Regions from separate parts of the Homo sapiens genome. Here regions 2 and 3 are each linked to region 1. Evidence: fine-mapped expression QTL. A gene starts in region 1. Each other region holds a variant in brackets. All regions are shown on one strand. Distances are from middle to middle. Region 1 holds the start of LACC1 (laccase domain containing 1). Region 2 overlaps ENOX1 (ecto-NOX disulfide-thiol exchanger 1). Region 3 holds the start of LOC124903166 (a long non-coding RNA gene).

Evidence for each region.
Region 2: its variant is fine-mapped to the expression of LACC1 in whole blood (INTERVAL, PIP above 0.99).
Region 3: its variant is fine-mapped to the expression of LACC1 in atrial appendage (GTEx, PIP above 0.99). The same link has a PIP of 0.9 or more in left ventricle.

What each region holds. Positions count from the first base shown.
Region 1 is chr13:43,875,526-43,883,710 of GRCh38, forward strand. LACC1 (laccase domain containing 1) reads left to right here and starts at 4,379. Exons shown (of 7, transcript NM_153218.4): 1 at 4,379-4,594; 2 at 5,427-6,022; 3 at 6,660-6,838. The coding sequence starts at 5,461. It overlaps CCDC122 (coiled-coil domain containing 122), which reads right to left and starts at 4,215. Exons shown (of 7, transcript NM_144974.5): 1 at 4,106-4,215. RefSeq lists a silencer at 4,117-4,266.
Region 2 is chr13:43,700,928-43,709,112 of GRCh38, forward strand. All of the region lies in intron 1 of ENOX1 (ecto-NOX disulfide-thiol exchanger 1), which reads right to left. Among named protein-coding and RNA genes, the nearest start is that of ENOX1, 82 kb to the right of the region's middle. The variant T/G (reference allele first, on the strand shown) is at 4,612.
Region 3 is chr13:43,810,844-43,819,028 of GRCh38, forward strand. It overlaps LOC124903166 (a long non-coding RNA gene), which reads left to right and starts at 339. Exons shown (of 3, transcript XR_007063773.1): 1 at 339-570; 2 at 1,739-1,799; 3 at 3,422-3,973. It also overlaps a transcript of CCDC122 not described here. The variant T/G (reference allele first, on the strand shown) is at 4,500.

The sequences.
Region 1 (8,185 bases):
ACTCTGACCCACAACCTGCAGCAAGCAACCCAGGAGACTAACCCATTATCTACAGTAACCAGTCCAGGAAGTCTATAAATTAGACTTGTAGAAAGTTAAATCATTATCTCTAATAACAATCCTAGGAGACAAACTATAACAATTGTCCCAAATGACCAGTACTGGATTAATAACTGGCATCTTCCCTAACTTTTGTCCCCATTTCCAAGTTGAGACTAACAAAAAGAAGCCATAGAATGCTCCACTTCTAGTTAGCCTGCCTGCAGCTTCCTCATGCTGAGAGCCTCTAATCAGGGCATGCCCACTCCTCTGCCTGCCTTCAACTTTGCTAAAATGCAGGAGATTGTGGCTCCCTCCCTTACAAGGCCTGAATAAATAGCTTTTGCTTGTTCTCATTTGATTGATCTTCATTTATTTCTACACAAGAATCCTTATAAGAGAAAGGTAGAGGGCTACTTGAGACTCAGACCCACATGGAATAAGACCATTTGACGATGGAGGCATGGAGCTTGAAGTCACTTAGCCCCTAGGCAAAGAACACCTGAAGTCACCAGACAACAGAAGAGGTAAGTGAACCACCAAAATGTGCAAGGTGCTGTCAACACCTCAGTTTCATCATCTGGCCTCCGTAACTGTGAGAGAACAAGTTTTTGTTGTTTTTAGTCACCCAGTTAGTGCCAATTTGTTATGCTAGCCCTAGGAAACTAACAGAAGCTTTTAGCAAGGAAATTTGCATCTGCTACATGGCTTTTTCTGGAAAGATCCATAAACCTTAGTGTAAATGGCTTAAAAACAACTGTTTTGTTCTTTAAAATTATACTTGTTCTCATGAGAAGATTTACATAGCATTATAAAAATGTCTGGTGAGTTCTTCAATAGTTCCCTTAATAGCCAGGCACTATCTCTGCCCTCAAAACACTCTAGGCAGAAAGACACACAGTCAATTAAAATGGAGAGGCGCAGCAGCTTATGTCTAAGCCTATCTACACATAACCTCTAACCACTTAACTCACTCTATTACCTTTGTAAGTCATAAGTGACTAATTCCCATATCATGCTAGGAAACTGTTAACTAGTAAATCTGCCTATTTCTGCTCCTATCAATTGACTAGTTCAATCTTATGACTTACTTGTGTTTGTTTGCAAACCTGTTTTTGCCAGTTGTGCTTGATATTGTGCTTTCGTAACTTAATATTGTATAAACCAATGAAATAGTGTGGAAATTGTTGTTTCTTTAAAAATCTATGTTTAATATTTTGGAAAGACCCAACAAAAGTATGTGAGATTAACTGTAAAAGATTATAAAATATAGCGGTGGCTCATGCCTGTAATCCCAGCACTTTGGGAGGCTGAGGCAGGCAGATCAAGAGAGGTCAGGAGTTCGAGACCATCCTGGCCAACATGGTGAAACCCCGTCTCTACTAAAAATACAAAAATTAGCCGGGCGTGGTGGTGCACGCCTGTAATCCTAGCTACTTGGGAGGCTAAGGCAGGAGAATCACTTGAACCCTGTGGAGGCTGCAGTGAGCCGAGATCGCACCACTGTACTACAGCCTGGCGACAGAGCGAGACTTCATCTCAAAAAAGAAAAAAATTACAAAGTATAAATCTGCCCTCAGATTGCTTCACAGGTGCCTTTAAGTTATTTTCCCCTTAAAAGAACAAAATCTTGGGAAATCTTAGCTGATGGTTTATGGGTACGGTTTATGCAAGAGATAGTATGCAGAATTCCAATCAGTAGACTACATGCAAAGAAAAGGTCTTGGATCTTCTCAATAGATGGGCAAATGAACACACAGTTGTTTTAGGTTAGAATACAGTTTAAGGTATTTGTTATATTTTTTCATGATTCTGTGGTTTAACTGACCTTTTTTCTTATAAAAAAAGCCTTTTTTAGATATAATTTACATACCACAAAGTACATCCTTATAAAGTGTACAATTCAATATTTAACCATTTTTTCCACTTATTTCTTGGCTAGGGGCCCAGACTACATCTATGAGAGGGCTTCTTCATATGAACAAAATGTAAAGAAGCTATTAATTTTGCTTGATGAGGGATGGGGATTCAGGGAAGATTATGTTTGAGCTTGAAGAGCCTTGAACAAAAAGTAGCAGTTAGGCATATAAAAAGGAGGGTATTTTGCTAAGTAGAGGAACTGCAAATGTAAAGAATGAAATCATGTGGCCTCCAAAGAACAGCTTTTATTTGAGTGGCTTGGGAATAGGGTGTTTTTATTTTTTCAAACTTAATTATGCATCTAACTCATACATAGAGGTTAAAACAAAACAAAAAAGCAAAGCAAAACATGCTCAGGCCTAACTCCTAGAGATTCTGATTCAATGTATATTTGGGATAGAGTCTCTACATTAATTATTTTTTTTTTCAGTTGCACTTGCAGTTCTGATTTGCAGCCAAGACTGAGAACCACTGGAGTAGGATAGAGTGAAAATGGGATGAGGAAGTGTTAGGACATGACACTAGGACCAGATGGTGAAAGGAAATGGTATGCAAATACAATATAACAAACTCTCTTCCCTGACAACTTCATTCTTTTGAAATATTTTCTTTTTCATTTTTTTTTTACTGCCACTACTTTTGCATGAAAGAATACGAATCCCACCATTGTAAAAACAGAGATAAATGTTTAAAACCTTTGTAACTAAAAGACCTCTGTTTTGCTTGAGGTATTAAGCTGGTGCAAAAGTAATTGTGGTCTTTGTCAATGGCAAAAACCGCAATTACCTTTGCACCAATCTAATGATATTTAACATAAACAAACTCAGGGCAGAGTGCACCTTCTGATTGGGTGTACCATCTACCGCTCGGGGCTCTTTAACAAATGACCAAAGAAAACATGAATTTTGACATAACTGGTGCTAGGGTTATTGAAGGGTGGGTTTCCATTCTGGGTTAGTGCTCCCAGTCTCTAGTCAAGCACAAGAACATGCCTACCCCAGAGGGCTCTTCCAAATTCCCAGCTATCTGAGATTATGAGACAAAGGTTCTTTAGCGCCTACCAAATGAGCAACAATGAAGATAAAAGGGACCTCTCCTTCCATCATAACCAGTTCCCCAGGAAGCACCATTTCTCTTACTCTTGGAAGGTCGGATATTTTTTCCCTTTACCATACACTGGCCTTCCATGTCCTAACTGCTATTTTCAAATAAATGAACGTTATATTCTTGGAGGACAGATCAGGGATGCTAAACTGCACCTTTATCATGATTTTAGGGATGAGCGCCTTTTACTTAAGTCCTGCTAGTGGCACATATTTTAAAAGGCCATAGAGGACATCCGTGTTGTCAACACAAGTGAAGGCGCTCGGAAGAGTGTTGGTCAGCAAGAATCAGCACAAAGACATTGGAGGAGAGACAACAGCTTGTTTCTGGAAACAAATGAACAACAAAAAAACACTAAAACATCTCGAGGGGGCCCCTGACTTGAGCCCTGCATGGGAAAAGCTGCCAAGAGCTAGCATGACAAGGGACTGGCCCTGGGCTGCGGTGAGGAAACCCAGCGTCCTGACCACACTGCTGGGTCAGCGAGGCGTCCCTCAGAGACCGGAAACGCGGACTTCAGCTCGCTTGGGAAACGGCTTCCATTAGCAGAAGGGAGACTGCGGTTTAGTCCCGAGGTCGCTCCAGCAGCCCGGCCTCACGCGACCCACCATTCCCGCCGCCCCCTCACGGTGCCCGCCGTTCCCGCCGCCCGGCTTTCTAACCGGGCCCCTAGTTCCCCGCCCCGTGCCCTCTGGAGACCTGCAGCTCCTGCCGCCCTGCGCCCGCTCCCAGGGCCCGTCGTTCCGCCGCCCTATCCCTCCTCAAGGGGCCCCTAGCTGCCTCCTCGCGACCCTTTCCGGACTCGGCCTGCCCACTCCTGCCCGCTAACCCGCCTGGCTCCCGGGCGAGAGCCCTCGCGCGGCTCTGGTTCCTGTTCCTCTAACGCCGCCGGGGCTGCGGGATGCCGACTCCGCGGACCGCCCAGACCCGGAACTGCTGAGGCAGCAGCGGGCTCGCGGCGCTTGGCTCATCCCGGGATTCCCCAGCTCTCGCGCTGGGCCCGCCGCGTTCGCACCAAGCACGCCAGGCGGCCCTGGCCTACCTCCCTCCCGCCTCCCGGCAGCTGGCACGAGGGAACCTGGCCGTCAGGTTTCCCCTGGGATCCTGGGACGGTATCAGGCGGGGAATCTGTGCGGCCGCGGCGAGGTAGGTGAGGTGAGGCGGGGCGAGGTGGGCGAGGGGGGCGAGGTGAGGCGGGGCGAGGCGGGGCGAGGCGAGGCGGGGCGAGGTGGGCGAGGTGGGCGAGGTGAGGCGGGGCGGGTGTCGTCGCGCTGGGCCGAGCTTACGACTCCAGCTGACCCGCTCGCGGCTGCCCAATTTCGTTGAGGCTCAGGACGAGGGACGGGGCGGCAAATTGTCACAGAGGTCGCCGTAGACCGGTGTGCAACCGAAGGTGAAGAGCGGGAAGGCGAGGACCGAATCGCCTCTGGTGTGCGTTGTCCGACAGGAAGTCCCGAATGGGCTGTGAGCCGCCGGTGGAGGTGCCCGGGCAGGTGCAGAGCCACAGCCTGCGCCCCGTGAGCCGAGGCGGGTAGGAGGAACAGGGACCTGGCGGCGACACACGTTGGGCGGAAATTCACAATGAACAGGGAAGGGGGGACGGTCACCCACTCAAAACTGGCTAAATGAACCTCAGAGGGAGCCCCGAGAGATGGGGAGCAAAGGTTAGGGGAAGCGGCAGGAGAAAACCTTCTTGGGGCAAAGGGCGTCACCAAAGGGGGTCACCGGAGCCCCGCAGGTTGGGGTGGGAGGGCTGGGCTGGAGGTGAGCAAAGCTGCACGGGGAGAATGAATTAAGAAAGTTGAGAGGAAGCCTGTCTCATCCAAATCACTATAGCTTTTGTGGTCATTGCTAAGTGTGGAGTACTGCGCAAATCCTGAAGGGAACTCTATTAGCCATCTCAGCTTTTATCATCTTAAAACGCGAATTTCGCGTGCAGCTCCATTTAGCTTCGTAAACTTAAGCCCCCGCATATGAAAGGATGAGACCTAATATGACAATCATGTCAGGACTAATGATATATCACACAGGTTGACACTCTGCAATTTAAAAACAGGACTTTGTCTAAACTCCACAAGTAATTCCTTACTCAAAAGTTCTGTGTAAACAAAACAGAGGAACTGTCGTGCTGCTGGAAAGATGTACCAGCATTTTCACAAAACGAATTAAAAGATGGCTTTGCTTTCACTGTCATGGTTCTGTTGTGACAGAGTAGACTGGCTTTTCTGGGAGGGGCCTAGATTTACTATTTTAGTTACATTTTAAAATCAGTGTAATTACTTCGTTTTTAATCTACCACAAATTTCTGTTGTAACTATAAGATTTATATAATCTTATATTCTTACACTAATTTTTATTTGCAGGTGATTTATTTGGCATAAAAGTATTCTTTCAAGGATGGCAGAAGCTGTTTTGATTGATCTTTTTGGTTTGAAATTGAACTCTCAAAAAAACTGCCATCAGACATTACTGAAGACTTTGAATGCTGTCCAATACCACCATGCTGCCAAGGCCAAGTTTCTCTGTATAATGTGTTGCAGTAACATCAGCTATGAAAGGGATGGAGAACAAGATAATTGTGAAATAGAAACAAGCAATGGATTATCAGCTCTCTTGGAAGAATTTGAGATTGTTAGCTGTCCCAGCATGGCTGCCACTTTGTATACCATTAAACAGAAAATTGATGAAAAAAATCTGAGCAGCATTAAGGTAATTGTACCCAGGCACAGGAAGACATTAATGAAAGCTTTTATTGATCAACTCTTCACTGATGTTTACAATTTTGAATTTGAAGATTTGCAAGTGACTTTTAGGGGAGGGCTTTTTAAACAGTCCATTGAAATAAACGTAATCACAGCTCAAGAACTAAGAGGAATTCAGAATGAAATAGAAACATTTTTGAGAAGTCTGCCAGCACTGAGAGGAAAATTAACTATTATCACTTCTTCTTTGATCCCAGGTATATTAACCACTAACTGTTGTTTTTACTTTGTACATGGAAAACTAGTCTTTCTTCAGAGGTAGTTCACCTCTTTTTTTCCTCCTTTCTTTTGTTGACTGTTGTGGGCTGATTACTCATTAGCATCAGTGGCAACACAGAGGTGTCATGTTTGGCCCTGTAGTATCAGGGGTGTCAAGGGATAAAGCCTTCAAAGCCACCCCAAATAAATAAATTTGCTTTACAAAAATTTGATGATGAGACAAATAATCTAGCCCTCCTTTGCAATGAGATTTATGACACTGAAAATCTTCTATTTAGAAATTCTGAAATTTCAAATCATTGGCACCTTCATAGAAGAGTAAAATTTAAAACAATCAATCTTACTTCTTGGTTAAACAGTATTTTCTGTGAGCTATATGCTATTAGATATAACAAAGCCAGATGAGACACAATATACCTTTTGAAGAGCAACAATCTCATAGGGAGTGTAAAACAAACACAAAGCAGAATGCCATAAGAACATATGGAGGTACAAAATGCCATAGAAATTAGAAGCCAAATAACAAGGGCAGGTAGCAGTGATCAGGGAAGGTCTAATTGAGAGACTGGTATTTTGAATAGCATCTTTTAAATCTTCACTGCTTATCTTCAACAGATATTTTCATACATGGATTTACTACAAGAACAGGTGGGATATCTTATATACCAACTCTTAGCTCATTCAATCTCTTCAGTAGTTCCAAACGGAGAGATCCCAAGGTAGTGGTTCAAGAAAATCTGCGTAGGTTGGCGAATGCTGCAGGATTTAATGTGGAGAAATTTTACCGAATAAAGGTAAAATTTTGCTTTATATTTTGAAAGATCTAAAGTATATTTTTTACTTTGCTAGTAACTACATGGACTTTAAGCTATTTAACTTTTGTATCTGCTTTTTTATCTAAAGTTTTAGAATAATGCTGTGGTTGTCTTTCTTAGATTTATACACCATAGCCTAAAGATAAGTTCTATTTTATACACACACACACACACGTGCAGATATATATATATATATATATATGCACACACACATATAGTAAGTCATCCTTTAATGTTGATAGGTTCTTAGAAATTGTGACTTTAAGTGAAACGACATAATAAAACCAATTTTACCATAGGCTAATTGATATAAATAAGAATAAAGTTTCTAAGGCATATTTCTTGTCACAAAAACATCACCAAACTTCTAAATAAAGACCAACACATTCCTAGTATTAAACATTGAAATAAATGTGAGCTAGACATATATTTACAAAACAGTAAGAAAGACAAATAAGATAACTACCAAATTATTTCGGTTCAGGGCTTTAGGTAGCTGGAGTCTATTCTGGCAGATCAGGATGCAAGGCCACAACCCACCCTCGACAGGACACCATTCCATTGCAGGGTGCCCTTACACACACACACACGTACTCATGCTGGGACCATGTAGACACCCCAATTCATCTAACATGCACTTCTTTGGGATGTGGGAGGAAGCTGGAGTACCCAGAGAAAACCCATGTGGACGTGAGGAGAAGGTGCAAACCTCACACAGTCAGTGACCGGGTGGGTAATCAATTTTTTTCATTAACATTATAATGAAATGATGTGGAATAAAATGACATTATTCAAGAGCCTACTGTATATTTCATCTGGAGTCCTCAATTCTAAAAGTACAGTTAATTCTCAGAGAGTATACTACCACTGCTCTTTTTGATTTAGAAGAAAGGGAACTGAATGGTGGTAGAGAAAGGCCATTATTTTATAAATCTACTCCAGGAGGAACTAGGGTCATAGTTGATGAGATAATGTCTTGTTCCTTACAGAATTCTAGCTTTACTTGAGTCTTGGAAAAGTAAAAGTATCATTGATTTGTTAATTAACTTTCCTTTACAAGAAAAATTTTCATTTTGTAGAAAGTGCTATAAGAAATGATATACCTATCTTTATGGAAAGATGTTCATTATTCACTATATTGAATTTTATAATGTTAAACTCTGCTTTTCTTTGCATAAACTATCAGAGATTATAATCTAAAATCTTAAATAGTTAAATTATAAGTAAATTTTGTGTTTTCCCATATATAAAAGTGATATATTTAATGAATGCTAGTAATCTTAAACTGGTTATATAATTTTATACTACAATGAGTACCTTCGAGAA
Region 2 (8,185 bases), 170 kb before region 1:
AATACACTTTTTCACACATGGAATTTTAAAAGATTTTTTCTTATTATTTTAGTTTTTCACTCTTTAAAATTATCAGCATTATTTTCTACAATTCACTTGCTATGTATTTCATCTTCACATCATTTCAATACTGGAGGTACAAAACTGTAGAGACCTTTAGAGGGTTCCAATTAGTTTTACGCATTTTTTTGCAAGAGACTCCACGAAAGTGCATTATCACAATGTTAATTTTTGTTTGTAAGCATTTGTGCATGTACATAAAAACACTGAAATTTCCTCAATAAAGAGATGTACTTTTTGTACACGTGCATTTGTAAAAAATAACATTTCTCAAGATCTCAGCAATTTGTGTGACTGTATATGTTGTGGTGACCCATCTTAGTTTTTTAACTAATCTCCTCAAAAGACTTAGATTGTTCATCACAGTATTTCAGATGACCACAGGTACAAAGCTGGGTGCACACGGTTACAAACCACAATGATATGCACTCATTATTTCCCTTTTTACCTATTTCTTTATGAATAGGGTTTATCTGCTCATAACTGTTATACCCATGCAATTATTGTGTGTATACCTTAGTGCTTACACAAAATATCTATGTTAGTATTGTGTATTTTATTGTGTAAGGTAACCTATGAAGTGTTCTGTCATGTTTTTATATGTTTCATAAATAAATCCCCTTTTAAAATGCAAATACATATCTTTTAAAGAATTTTTAAATTATTTTTTCCAGAACTATATTTTTGGGATTTTTATCTTTCAGGATTGTGATTTTGGGGATTTTAGACTGAAGGAATTTTATCTTTTGGGATTATGGCATTTGGAATTGTGTCTTTTGGAATTATAATAATCTTCCCAAGAAACTACAATAGTATGATACCCTTATACAGACTACAGACCTTATTCAGATTTTGCCAGCTTTTGTATGCACTCATTTGTACATGTGTATGTATGTATGTATATATATAGTTTTACATAGGTGTAGTCCCTGTGTAGATTCTGATAACCATCACTGTAATCAAGAAACAGCATTCTTCTAACCCCACCAGGGAACACCCTTATGCTACTCCCTCCATCCTATCCCTATCCCCTGGCCACCACTAATGTGTTCTCCATCTCTATAATTCTGTCCTTTCAAGAATGTTATATAAATGGAATTATACACTATGAAATTTTTTGAAACTAGCTTTTTTCACTCAGAATAATGCCCTTTAGACCCAGCCAAGTTGCTGCACGTATCAATGGTTCATTTGTACTCTTTTTAGTGCTCTGAAATATTACTCTCATTTTGATCATCATACAAATTGACTGAATGCAGAAATATCTTGTTGAGGTTTAAATAGATAGATAAATAGCACTTCTCACAAGTTCCAAAACAAATTAAAAGGCAAATGAAGCAGGCAGATAGGGGATAAAAAGATATCAATGCTTTACTGTTCAGTCTGATTGAAGAATATAGCTTTATATCTGATGCCAGAGGGGTTGGCTAATACTCTACTGCAGGATTAAACTTATCCATTGGCATAGATGGAAAACTACTGGCAGGCAAATCTGGAAGAACGGGGCATGCTGAATTCCTACTCTGTAACTCACCTTTCAGGTAATGCTATAGTCAAAATGTGTCCCCCCAAAACTCATATGTAGAAACTTGGTATTAATAGATGGGGCCTCTAGGAAGTGATTAAGTGATGAGGACAGAGCTCTCACAAATGGGATTAGAGTTCTTATAAAAGAAGTCTGGGCTGGGCGCAGTGGTTCATGCCTGTAATACCAACATTTTGGGAGGCCGAGGTGGGTGGATCACTTGAGGTCAGAAGTTCGAGGCCAGCCTGGCCAACATGGTGAAACCCCATCTCTACTAAAAATACAAAAAAATTAGCTGAGCGTGGTGGCAGGTGCCTGTAATCCCAGCTACTCGGGAGGCTGAGGCAGAAGTATGGCTTGAAGCCGGGAGGCAGAGGCTGCAGTGAGCTGAGTTTGCACCATTGCACTCCAGCCTGGGCAACAAGAGTGAGACTCTGTCTCAAAAAAAAAAAAAAAAAAAAAAAAAAAAAAGTTTGAGGAAGCCCTTTTGCCCCTTCTGTCAAGAGAGGACACACAGAAGGCACCATCTATGAAAAACAGGCCTCTACCAGACAGCAGATCTGCTGGCATCTTGATCTTGGACTTCATAGGCTCCAAAACAGAAAGCAATAAACTTCTACTGTTTATAAACTACCTATTCTATGGTATTTTGTTATAGTACCAGGCACAGACTAAGATAGGTAACTTTAAATCCAGGAGAGGAATGACTTGGGAGGCATAGAAAAATGGGTAGTGTTCTTTCCATATTTTTCCTTCCTCAGGTGCAGTGTGTACATTCTGTCCTCTGTAGAAACATAAAGAGTATGGAATAGACATTGTAGCCAACAATCTAGATTTTCTCCCCCTTATCCCTTTCACTGTCTTTTAGTTTTTCCCTTCCATTTATGGGCAACCAGAAATGTTGCTATTCCCCTGAGTGAAGACTGCTTTTCGGGGCCATAAATCCAGGCAGCTTTAGATAGTATTCTTAGATACCTCTCTGAAGCGTCTCTGGGAATGTTATACGCTTATCTTCCTTTCTACTTCAGAAGTCCTATTCATAGTCCTATTCCTTTGTTCTATAGAATATCTCAATAACATTTCTTGAGAGTAGATTTTATTCAGTAGATGACAAATTTAAAGCAAAATATATAACAAACAGGCAATATGCTAGGAGTTAAGAGAATTTACCTTAATTTCCAAATGAAGACTTTACCTGTTTTGTTTCCCCTAATGTTTGCCCAAAAAGGAATAACTGACTACTAAAAATACCCTATGCTTACCAGTTCTATAGTAACCTTCCTTTAGAAGCTATTTCTTTATTAGCTTTTCCTATTTTAAAAAATGACATATATGTACATTATATATATATTTTTTTAAAAAACAGCTTTTTGCAATTTATAGCAAAATGGTAAACTAGAACAGGTTATTGTATCCCTTCCTCATGCTCAAACCTGAAAAAAATGACCTTAGTAGCAAAGAACTAAAAATAACAGGGATGGTGAAAGACACCAAGAATAGGTATGCCATTGTATTCTTCTTGATAGAATTATGGATAACAAATTAAGACACCGATAGAGAAAAATAAAAAAGAAGAGTGCACTTTAATAAGTTAGGGAGAATCACATAATGTTGAACTAGTGTCTTTTAAACAAAAGAAAATGTGATGTGTACAAAGGAAATCAGAAAAGAAGAAGAAAAAGTAAAACAAAAAGAAAACATAATAAACAGAAAATATATATGACTAAGATAACAGGAATAAGTCCTGATGTAACAGTATTTAAAGTCATTATAAATGGTATAAGCCCACCAATCAAGACCCTCAGAGAAGTTCTGACTTCTAATAATGGTGGAGTAGCTTATAACAGACTAACACTTTGCTGAAAATAGGTACAAGCTCCACACAAAACATAAAAACAACTTTTTGAAGGCACTGAAGGGAAACCAAATGAAGAAGGAAACTGACCTTTGAAAGAAAAAAAAACAACACACTGGGTAAGATCTACTTTTATACATCTTTTCCCTTAGGACAAGATAGGTGGAATTCAAGCAGAAATCCAGTCTGGTTAGTATGAAGAGTCAGAGGACAGAGTCTGAGGCTGCCAGAGCACTGCAAAAAGCAACAGGGGGTGGGACTGGTGATCCACAACGAAGAAATGCGTAGAAATAAGACCTGAATCCCGCATTTAAATCCTTGGCTGATCACTTAAATTGTACGTACATGCATGCATGGGGCAAGACTCCAAAGAGCACAGGATAAAACGAACCAATGGAAGGCGGAAAGAACCAAATAGAGATTTCAGCAGCTGTATATTTCAGCTGCTAATAATTATTATCTTGAATTTGCAATTTAAGTCCTGCCAGATAGTGGGGGCTTGGCAAATAACTTGGGCTTTCTAGTGACATCACAGAAGGGCCATGAGTTAAGAATAAATACTTATTTGAAGAACTATTTTCCTTACAACTAAAGGCAAAACAAAAACAGTTCTACCCTAACAAAGCCTAATATTGACCAGTAACATAATTGGATATTGGATATTATCCAATAATATGAAAGATATAGGTAAAAGACTACAGAGGATATAAAACATAATACTAAAATTATTTAACCTAAAAAATTCAGGAAAGGAGGAACAGAGAAACAAAATAGAGGAGACAAATGGAAACCAAATAGCAAAATTGCACACTTAAAAACAAATATCAAAAATTAAATTAAATATATGTAACACCCCTGCAGTGAGCCAAGATTGCACCACTGCACTCCAGCCTGAGTGACAGAGTGGGACTCCATCTCAAAAAACAAACAAACAACAACTCTCTCTCTCTCTCTCTCTCTCTCTATATATATATATATTTGTAATATATATATATGTAACACTCCAATTACAAGGCAAAGATTTTTAAACTAGATAAGAAAGCAAACAAATACATGCTCTATTAAAAAAGATGCACTTTAAATGTAAAGATATATGCAAGTTTAAAAAAAAGAATGAAAAAAATACATCAAATATTCCACATATAAGAAAGCCTGTATGGCTATATAAATA[T/G]CAAACAAAGTAGACTTCAAGCCAATGTATATTACCAGAGAAAATGAGGGTAATTTCATAATGACAAGGGGGTGTTACTATAGAGGGCCGTTTCATTAATAAAGCTCAAGAATTTTAACATATATGAAACAAAGACTTAGTAGAAATAAGGGGAAAAAATAGAAACCATTCACATAGTTGGAGATTTTTAACACCCCTCTCTTAGGAAATTATAAAACAACAGACCAAGGGGATAGTATGAATGCAGAAGATTTGAACATTATCAGTGAACTTCAACTTAAAATATATTTTGAATAGTAAACTCAACAAAGCAAAATTCATATAGTACACATTCTTGTCCAGTACATTGAAAAATATTTAATGAGACAGACTATATATTGGAATAAAAAACATCTTAATAAATTTTTAAAAATCAGATAGAATATGTTTCCTGTCTACAAAGTATTTAATAAGATATCAATATTAAGAGGTCTAGAAATTACCAGGCCTCTCAGAATATTCCTTCTAAACAATCCATGGGTACAAAGAAATCATAAGTGAAATTAGAAAATATTTAGAACTAAATAATAATAACATATAAAAATGTGTGAGATTTACTAAGGCAATGCTTAGAAAAAAATCTGTAGATTTAAAAAGCTTATATTTAAAAAAGTAAGAAAGGTTTAAAGTGAATGATCTATGCTACCAAGTTAAGAAGCTACAGATAGAATAAATTAATACAAAGTAATTAGAAAGGAGGAAGCAATAAAATAAAGCAGAAAACAATGAAATAGAAAAGAGACAGTAATGAATATCAGCAGGGCCAATTTGGGTTCTTGGAAAAAAAAAGAAAGAAAGAGGCGGAAGGAGCATACCACAACACAATTTACAATTATCACCCTAATAACAAAATGTGATAGCAATATTACAAAAAAGAAAAATCACAAACCAATATCACTCAGAAAGATGTAAAAGCTGTAACAAAATATTAAGCAAATCAAGCCCAGTAATACATAAACAGATAATACAGCTTGACCATATGGTATTTTTCCCAAAAATACAAGATTAGTTCAACATTCAAAACTGTATCTGATTAACAAAAATATTAACAATATATGGGTAAAAATAAAAACTATGATCATTGTAAGAGATATAGAAAGGACATTTTACAAAATTGAGCACATGATCAAGAAAGAAAAAAAAAAAACAAGCTCCTAGTAATAGAAGGGAACCTGATAAAACTATCTAAAAAAAATCTCACTCTAATATCACAATTAATGTTGAAATATTGAATGCTTTTCTCCTAAAGTCAGGAAAATATCCACTCCTACCACTTCTACTCAACATTGAACTACCAGTCCTGGATAGTGCAGTAAGGCAAGAAAGATATATATATATATATGGCATAAACATTAGAACAGAAGAAGTAAAACTGTTTTTTGCCCCCACCCTCACTCCCGACCCAGACAACATGGTTGCTTACAGTGAAAATTTTAAGGAATGTACATACACATAAAATTACTGGAACTGAAAAATTCCTTTAGTAAGGCCCAATGACAGAAAGTGAATATATGAAAATCAACTCTATTTCTATATACCGGCAGTGAATAACTGAAAATGAAATTTAAAACGATACTATTAAAAATTGCATAATAAAACATTAAATAGAGAAAAAACATAATAACAAATATGCAAGACCTCTATACGGAAAACCAAAAAATATTGAAGAAAAAGAATAAAGACCTATGTAAATGAATAGATGTTTCATGTTTCAGGGAAGTCTCAACATTAAACCGTGACCTGCCCCAAAGTTGATTTGTAGATTCAATGCCATCCCAATGAAAATCACAGCAGGATTTTTACAGAAATTGACAGGTGAGTCTAAAACTTGTATGGAAATGTAAAGAACCTATAGTTATTAAAACAATAAGAACAGGGTGGGGCGCAGTGGCTCACGCCTGTAATCCCAGCACTTTGGGAGGCCAAGGCGGGCGGATCATGAGGTCAAGAGATCGAGACCATCTGGCCAACGTGGTGAAACCCTGTCTCTACTAAAAGTACAAAAATTAGCTGGGCGTGGTGGTGCTCGCCTGTAGTCCCAGCTACTCGGGAGGCTGAGGCAGGAGAATGGCGTGAACCCGGGAGGTGGAGGTTACAGTGAGCCGAGATCACGCCACTGAACTCCAGCCTGGTGACAGAGAAAGACTCTGTCTCAAAAAAAAAAAAAAAAAAAAAAAAACCAAGAACAAAGTAGAAAGATTTACAGGACCTGATTCCAAAATTTACAAAAATGCTATCAGAAAATGTGGTTCTGATATAACGACAGAAAAAAAGATCAATTAAATGGAATAAGGAATTAAGATATGTATGTGGACATATATTGTTAGACTAGGTAGTTAGGCAGACATGAGCAGAGTGGGAGAGGGGTCCCCCTTATACTAGGAATGTCAGGACACCATCAGGTGATGGCTAGACAGTTCTTAAACTGCCTCTCTAAAATAATTGGTTGTAGCTGGTGCCAGGAAAGGCAGTTTCCCAGTAGATAGAGAACACCTGAAGCTGATGATCAGCGGCTTCCTAATAAGATCTCAGGAGTTGGGTGAGTGGGCTCAAGCATGAGCACTAAAAGGCAAACTGGCACGTTTAACTGGTATATGACCTTGCTCTAGGAACATTTGTCTGGTGAGGGAAGAATGCCTCAAGTGAGCATGCGTACAACTTCAATAAGCACATTGGGCATGCAGCCCCTCCCAAGTGCGGACAGGCCATTGCGCATGTCGACAGCCCACCCTAAGGGAAGAATCAAGGTAGAAGTAACACAGACCCTGGAATCATGCCAATGTATAAAGCCCCAAGGCAAAGGTCAAACAGTGCACTTGAATCTCTCAAGTCACCTGCTTGGCCCTCTTCCAGTGTACTTTACTTCCTTTTGTTCCTGCTCTAAAACTTTTTAATAAACTTTGACTCCTATTCTAAAACTTGCCTTAGTCTCTTGCATTGCCTTATGGCCCCTCAGTCAAATTCTTTCTTCTGAGGAGGCAAGAATTAAGGTGGCTGCAGACCCATATGGATTTGGTGCAGCTAACAATAGGACAAATTAATTTTCAACAGAAGCACCAAGGTAATTCAATACAGACAGAAAGTGTGATCTTTTCAACAAATGATGCTGAAACAAATGTAAATCTGTAATGAATAAATAGGCCTCACAATATATAGGTAAAGTAACCCAGGACGATTCATAGAGCTACATATAAAAACTAAAAATATAAAGCTGATAGAAGAAAAAACCTTTATGACATTAGGATGGTAAAGATCTTTCCATACACAAAACCCACTAAGGGTTAGGCAAAACAAAACATAAAAAAATTCTGCTCTTCAAAGGACATCATTAAGAAAATGAAACGGCAAGCCATAGATTCCCAGAGTGGCTTTAAAAAGCAAATAGCCTGTCTATGAGAATTATAGTTTTTAAAATAAGGATATAAAATTACTGGGGTAAAAAGGAAGAAAATATTTAAAATACACATATCTGACAAATGATGTATATACAAAATATAATTTTTAATTCTACAGTTTAATAAAGAGACAACACAAT
Region 3 (8,185 bases), 65 kb before region 1:
GTGAGCCACCATGCCCAGCCTAGATAATCTTTATTGAATATCATAATTTATAAGGTTACAAGCTGGTTAGATATCCTGCCATCATCCTCTTGTAGGATAATGGCAATTGACTTCTTCTCTGCAACTATTTCAAAGAAGTCCAGGGAAATGTATTGCAATGGACAAAACCTTATTGGCCTACATTAATAGATGCTTAGGGCCATGTGTTATACGATTCCAGGGGACAACATTCATGCAGGTGACTTCCTATTTTTGCATAGCAGGTAGGACTCTCAAACCATGAACATAACTGTGCAAGACATACCCATTTCTTTTCTATAACCGAACTTAATTTCTGACTCTAGGATTCCCATCATCCATTTTTTGGAGGAGAATTTATCCTCTGCCTTTCTTGGAAGCCTCCTCCAGCCCCAAATGTGCCATTGCTCTGGGATTTTGCACACCACCAAGTGGATACTGGGAGGAGCCAGGTTTGAGCCATCTCCAGAGGCTGCCTGTTAAAGTGAATGGCCCCCAGCAAGCAGAAGGAGACTGTGGGTCATCACTAGAGGACAGAACCTGAGGAGGCTGGTAAGAGGTCATTTGGAAAGTGTCTCATAGAGAATGGTGCAGATTAGCATTCCTTGGTGGGGAGGCATTTAAATAATCTGCAAATACAACCCAACAGAGACTACATTTTAATGACCATTGAGACAGAACCACAAACAGCAAAAGCTAAGTAAAAAGGCCTTTTCTCTTGCTTTCAGCCCTCCTCTTCCCCACTGGAGGGGAGGAGGGGATGTGGTATTGGGACCTGGAGTTTAGAAGAAGACAGCAGTAGAAACAGCCTGCACTTCCTACTCCTGGTACCCAAACAAAGCCAGAAGTCAGGCTTCAGTTAAGAGGAGAGAAGCTTTAGTTTAAATTAAAAAATTAAAGTAAGACTTATGTGTACCTAAAGATAAGACTGTAGCTGTAGTTGAAAATTACCAGAAATGCTATGGAATCTCCCTGAGATGTTGCCAAGTGGTAGGGAGGATACACCTAGCAGGGCATGGGTGAAGACAGTGGTTTGCTGATTGTATCCTAAAGAGAATGTGCTTATGTGCTTTGTCCCTTCCAGTCTGGCTGCCCTCTGAAGCCTCCCTGTCCTCCTTCCTCCCCAGTCACAACTATTACCTGAAGCCATTCTGCACTAGGCTCCCACTGCCTCCCTGGAGGCTGCATTTGACTCCTCCCTGCTCCCAGGCCTCCCTTTCTTGGGAAACCTCTCTCTCTCTCCTACTTTTTTCAAATTCCACTTGTTCCTGCAAATATTTTTTCCCTTATGTATCCTCTATAAACAGTGTAAGTTCTTCTATGGGCTTACATTTTATTTTTAGAAACAAAAGCCAGAAGGGGCAAAGGCTACTTTACTTTCTACACCTGAAGTAGTGGCTATTGACATGAATATGGAAAGGGCAAAGGACAAATAAAATGGTGAGGAAAAAATATAAATTATATATCAAAGCCATATGCTGTTCTGCTTTGATTTCTAATGGAACTTAGTCAATCTTGAGCTGATTGGGTTTTGCTGTTGGACACAGAACATGAATGTAACTTAAATGAATCACAGCATATTTTATACAGCATATGCTTGCCTTCTTCCCTGTGCTTTATGTGGGCTGTGTAAGAGGGGAAGCAGAGAACTCACCATATTTATAATTAAATAATTAGCCTAATAGCTCTTACATATCTGCCTTCCATGCTCAACTGGAAGCTCCATGACTGCCGAAACTATGTCTGTCTTTTCACTGTGGATCTGAATTTCTTCTCCACAGGTACGTTCTTGTTATATGAATGAGTGAATCTGTCAAAGTGTTAGGTATGTTGGGAGGTGTAGGTCAGGAGTGTGGCAGCCAGGACCAGGCTACTATTCAGCCTCTTTGTGTGAAGAGCAGGGGATTTGGGAGGGGTGAGTAGATCTGGACTAAGTCGTCTCCTGAGATCCCTTACAACCCACCCAACTGTCCGGGGGCTTTCTGATTCAGGGTCAGTCTGGTCTTACATATGACCTGCCATAGCTTTGAGGGTTATAAGATATATTATGATAGGTTTTGTTCAAGCACTTGTCAAAACAAAAAATTACCAGGCCATTTCTTTTCACTTTCAAGAGGCATGTTAAAATGGCATCAACCCATTAGTAGCATTTATACCTATAAACAATAGAAACATCTCAACTTAGTGTCTGCCTTTAAGAGAAAAATTTTAAAAATTAAATTGCCACTTCTTCATATTTATTTAGCATATTCACAGGCTAAAAAAGAAATAATTGCAGGTCTCTTAAAGGCCTTATGGCTTACTCCAGAGTCAGTAGTTTCCAGTTTAACTTGGACTAATGGGTTGGTCAGCTAAGGATTGCTTTGGAGAGGGACTTACTTTAATGATTACAGACAACACTGATTCTTAAAGACTTCATGTTCTGAAAAGCATTATAATGATGGAATGATTATAAATAATAATATTCATAGGACACTTTATAAAGAATCCTGCCATAGTTATGATTTCATGTCTAAACCAACGCAGGGAGTAGCACATGAACCAATGGTGTAGATCCTCAGAGACATGTTTCCCTGCTTCCCGACTCCCACCCAGCCTCTGAGTCTCCATACAGCTTGGACTCAAAGATTCTCTTTTATTCCTTCTCCATGATAGTTAGACCCCCGTGCTCAGTTTCGTGGTTGTTCCAGCACGCAAAGGCTATGGTTTGAAATATCCCAGCCTTTCCTTTCTATTTCATCCATATCCTGCCCATCGTCTCAAAGATAGCTCATCTTGTTCACTCCTTGAAAATTTGTGAAACATATTTGGTATTTCATTATATTAACTCTTTCAGTGCTGCTGAACTGTTTCATCTGCTTCAGGTATTAGTGGCAGGAAGGAGAGGACCATGCCTTGCACATTATGTTGCAGAGATTCCCTTAGTAGATGTACACTTGTTGAATAAATGGTCCAGAATCATACCAATTGGAATACTTTCTTAAATCAAGTTACATGTTTGTATGGTGCCCTAGAAAATGTCTAGCACTTCTTAGGTGTTCAATAAATATTAATACTGCACTTGTAACCTGAGATGTTGAATTTGGTTTTAAAATAAGCCAACAAAGTAAGCAAGCTACTTCCCAGGTATGTTACCTTTTATAACTTCTATGTTTACAACTCTACTACCATATTGAGAGAATAACTGTTTAACATGATGACCCTGTGGTAAAAATCCAAACTCATTAAAAAAGAAAAGTTTGAGTTTCAAGTCAGTTACAAGTAAAATCAAATAAAGGAAGAAAGGAAGGAAAGCATGAGGGAGGGAAGGAGAGAGGGAGGGAGGAAAGAAGAAAAAAAGAAAAATTAAAATGCATTTGACATATTGAATGTATTAATTCAATTGCCAACCATTCTTTTGCAGTGCCTCCTAATCCTGGACAACAGAACATTGCTGGACAACCATGGCAAAGCTGAGCTCAGTGGGCTCACCATGGATTTACTCTGATCTGCATTACTTAGATCATTAATGTCAATCCCTTTTTTCCCAGTAGCTTTATGTCTGTTCACATCATTTCATTCTCAATTGCACTAGCTCTGTGCTTTTACCCTTAGCTGTTATCCTCACCCTCTATCTAAACAAGAGCTCCTTTGATTTCCTTCCTCCTCACTTTAAAATTTTCTTTTGCCTTTGATCGTTCTCTTATTTTTCTCATCCTGTCTCAGGAATGCTCTTTCTTCCCAAGGCTATGCCTTCCTCTCTGTATGGATCCTGTCCCCTCCTGGCTTTCCAGGACTACTGCATGAATTACCTTCTATTTTCTTGCATCTTCAGTGTCACCCTTTTCATGAGCTCTGCAACAGTCCTATTGCCCAAGCTCTAGAAAATCCCCCTCTTAAATTATTGTATTTCTAGCCTTTCATTTACTATCTCATTTCTCAAAAGTGCAATAAACATGTAATTTCCCTTTTTCTACTCTTTTGGTTTGAGGCATATTATCCTTCTATTTCTCACACCTAAGGCCTCAAATTCCACCTGTAAGGGGGTGAGCTTGCACTTAGGTTCTAGGCTAAATCTAGTCACAAGAAAGCAACTAGTGCAGTTAGATTCACAGTTTAGAGTGTCTGTGGAAATGCTTCACCTTGGGATGGGATTCTGCCTGCATTACTGTTACTTAAGCATACTGATGCCACCTGGATATTCACCTGCTTCAGCTTCTGCCTGTTGACCCCTTGCACACTACTTTCTCCCCCTCTCATGTTTGGAAGAATCAACCTCAAAATGTTAACTTCATTATTGATAAAGCCAACTGGGGAACATGTCTTTAGATGTTTGGTCAAAAGCCTTGCTGAGTTGAATTTTCTCCTACAACAGCAGCCCAGAATGCACTCTCTCTGCACTTGGTTTGCAGGCTGGCTTATGGAGAGTCAGGGGTTAAGTGTTCTTCCAACTTTGCAAAAGATAAATCAGTCATCTACTAGGAAAAGAGGAAAATCAGAGA[T/G]AAGCTGAAAGCATTCCTCTCATAATTTTCCATTCCTGGGGAGTAGATTTGACATTTTCTTCCCTTAATGGAAACATGAGTCATGAGGAATAAATGCTCCCTGCTATCAGTCCTCTCTCTCCCTTCTAGGGCTTCTCCTGGTTCCTGTTCGGCCCCCAGAAAGCTTGTCTAATCTTGGCTAGCCTGATCCAGCCTCCACCAGCCCCGATGCTGCTGGTATACACTTGCTCCTTAACCACACATACTGTGGTTTCTGCTTTAACAATCAGCCATAGGATTTTAATTACCCAATCTAGCCACACGTTCTCAGTCCTTTTCTTCTCTAACTTCTCAGCTCAAAAATTTTGAATACATCCCATTTGATTGTGGACAAAGAGGCAATGATCATGGGGTAATGCACTATGTTTTTGTACACTAAGTTTCTTTTGTAAATACCATTGTTTCTGGCCAGGCGTGGTGGCTCACACCTGTAATCCCAGCACTTTGGAAGGCCGAGGCAGGCGGATTGCCTGAGGTCAGGAGTTCGAGATCAGCCTGACAAACATGGTGAAACCCCCTCTCTACTAAAAATACAAAAATTAACTGGGTGTGGTGGCACATGCCGGTAATCCCAGCTACTGAGGAGTCTAAGGAAGGAGAATTGCTTGAACCCAGCAGGAGGAGGTTGCAGTGAGCCAAGACTGCGCCACTGCACTCCAGCCTGGGTGAGAGAGCAAGACTCTGTCTCAGAAAAATTAAATAAATAAATAAATAAATAAAGCCATTGTTTCTAATTTTTTTTTTTAAAAAAAGCTGTTTCCTTAACATTCCAGTATGCTCTATTCTAAGGCTTTTCTAAAAATCAGTATTCATATAAAAAATACTTTCTACTGATGTAGAAGAGGGGTAAGAACTTTGGAGTGAAAACAGATTAAAGCTTGGGTTTGAATTCCAGTTCTGACACTTACTAATTAAATGACTTTATTTAATTTCTCATCACTTTAGTAATTTCATTTCTAAACTGGTGATTAACAGTGGCTAATGTGTATTAAATACATAATGCTAATCACTGAGGGCTTTATATGCATTATCTTATTTAATCTTACAACTCCATGAAGTAATCCTATTATTATTTCCATTTTACAGATTTTTAAAATGAGATTTAATGAACAAAAGAAACTCGCCCAAAGTCACACAACCAGTAAGTGAGAGAGTTTGGAATAAAATCTAATAAAACACATATTTGAACTCAAGTTTATGTAAATCCGAAGTTAAAGCTCTTAAAAGCTGTGCTTTTCTTTTTCTGTACTTAGTATATGCAAAGATCTCCTACAGTGCCTTGTGCTGATTATGAAGTCACCAGACAATAGCTGTCATTATCATCACTGCCATCATTATTATAAACAAAACATTACGTTCGAGCTTGGCCATCAGTCTTTTTGCAGTGTTTTTCAATTTGGTTTCTTATTATGGATTCACTAAAAGGAGTCAATTTCTCTTTTTATATGGACACTTTGTAGTAGAATTGAAGATAACAATTATTAGATAAATTGACATGGTGTTATTCATGTACTAGAAGGAAACATTGACATATTTCTTAATAAGCTGAGTATGAGAAAAACTTTCCTAACTATGACACAAAATACAAAAACAGTAAAACAATTGATCAGTTCAACTACATAAAAATAAAACAACTTTTGCATGGCAAAAGTAATATAAAAAAGTAAAAAGACAAATGACAAGCTGGGGAAAATAATTGCTACTTCTGTCACAAACGAAAGATTATTCTGGCATGAAGACAGCCACATTGACCTACAGGATAGAATAGAATGCCAAGAAACAAGCTCTCACATAGATGGTCAAAACATTTTTGACAAGGGGACCAAGACCATACAATGAGGAAGAAACAGCCTTCCACAGATGGTGCTGGGAAAACTGGGTATCTACTTGCAAAAGAATGAAGTTGGCCCCTGCTTTTATACCACATACAAAAATCAACTCAAAATGTATCAAATATTGGGCTGGGCATGGTGGCTCACACCTGTAACTCTAGTACTTTGGGAGGCCAAGGTGGGTGGATCACCTGAAGTCAGGAGTTCGAGACCAGCCTGGCCAACATGGTGAAACCCTGTCTCCACTAAAAATACAAAAATTAGCCAGGCATGGTGGCACATGCCTGTAATCCCAGCTACTTGGGAGGCTGAGGCAGGAGAATCACTTGAACCCAGGAGGCAGAAGTTGCAGTGAGCCGAGATTGTGCCACTGCACTCCAGCCTGGGTGATAGAGCCAGACTCTGACTGAAAAAAAAAGTATCAAAAATCTAAACATAAGAGCTAAAACAATAAAATTACTAGAAGAAAAAACATGGTGGAAAGCTTCATGACATTGGATTTAGCAAAGATTTCTTAGATATGATGTAAAATCACAGGCAATGAAAAATAGATAAATAGTTGAACTACATCAAAATGTCAAAATTCCGTGCACCAAAGGACATAGTAAATGATGTAAAAAGGCAACTAACTTTTTTTCCTTCATTTCAACTTTGGTGAAACTGACAATTATGTGTCTTGGAGTTGCTCTTCTCGAGGAGTATCTTTGTGGCGTTCTCTGTATTTTCTGAATTTGAATGTTGGCCTGCCTTGCTTGATTGGGGAAGTTCTCCTGGATAATATCCTGCAGAGTGTTTTCCAACTTGGTTCCATTCTCCCCGTCACTTTCAGGTACACCAATCAGACGTAGATTTGGTCTTTTCACATAGTCCCATATTTCTTGGAGGCTTTGTTTGTTTCTTTTTATTCTTTTTTCTCTAAACTTCTCTTCTCGCTTCATTTCATTCATTTGATCTTCCATCACTGATACCCTTTCTTCCAGTTGATTGAATTGGCTCCTGAGGCTTGTGCATTCGTCACGTAGTTCTCGTGCCGTGGTTTTCAGCTCCATCAGGTCTTTTAAGGACTTCTCTGCATTGGTTATTTTAGTTAGCCATTCATCTAATTGTGATCGGTGTGCTGCACCCACTGTCCTGCACCCACTGTCCGACACTCCCCAGTGAGATGAACAGGTGCTGGAGAGGATGTGGAGAAATAGGAACACTTTTACACAGTTAATGGGACTGTAAACTAGTTCAACCATTGTGGAAGTCAGTGTGGCGATTCCTCAGGGATCTAGAACTAGAAATACCATCTGACCCAGCCATCCCATTACTGGGTATATGCCCAAAGGATTAAAAAACATGCTGCTATGAAGGCACATGCACACGTATGTTTATCGCGGCACTATTCACAATAGCAAAGACTTGGAACCAAGCCAAATGTCCAACAATCATAGACTGGATTAAGAAAATGTGGCACATATACACCATGGAATACTATGCAGCCATAAAAAATGATGAGTTCATGTCCTTTGTAGGGACATGGATGAAGCTGGAAACCATCATTCTCAGCAAACTATCACAAGGACAAAAAAACCAAATACCACATGTTCTCACTCCTAGGTGGGAATTGAACAATGAGAACACATGGACACAGGAAGGGGAACATCACACACTGGGGCCTGTTGTGGGGTGGGGGAAGGGGGGAGGGATAGCATTAGGAGAAATACCTAATGTAAATGACGAGTTAATGGGTGCAGCACACCTTCATGGCACGTGTATACATGTGTAACAAACTTGCATGTTGTGCACATGTACCCTAAAACTTAAAGTATA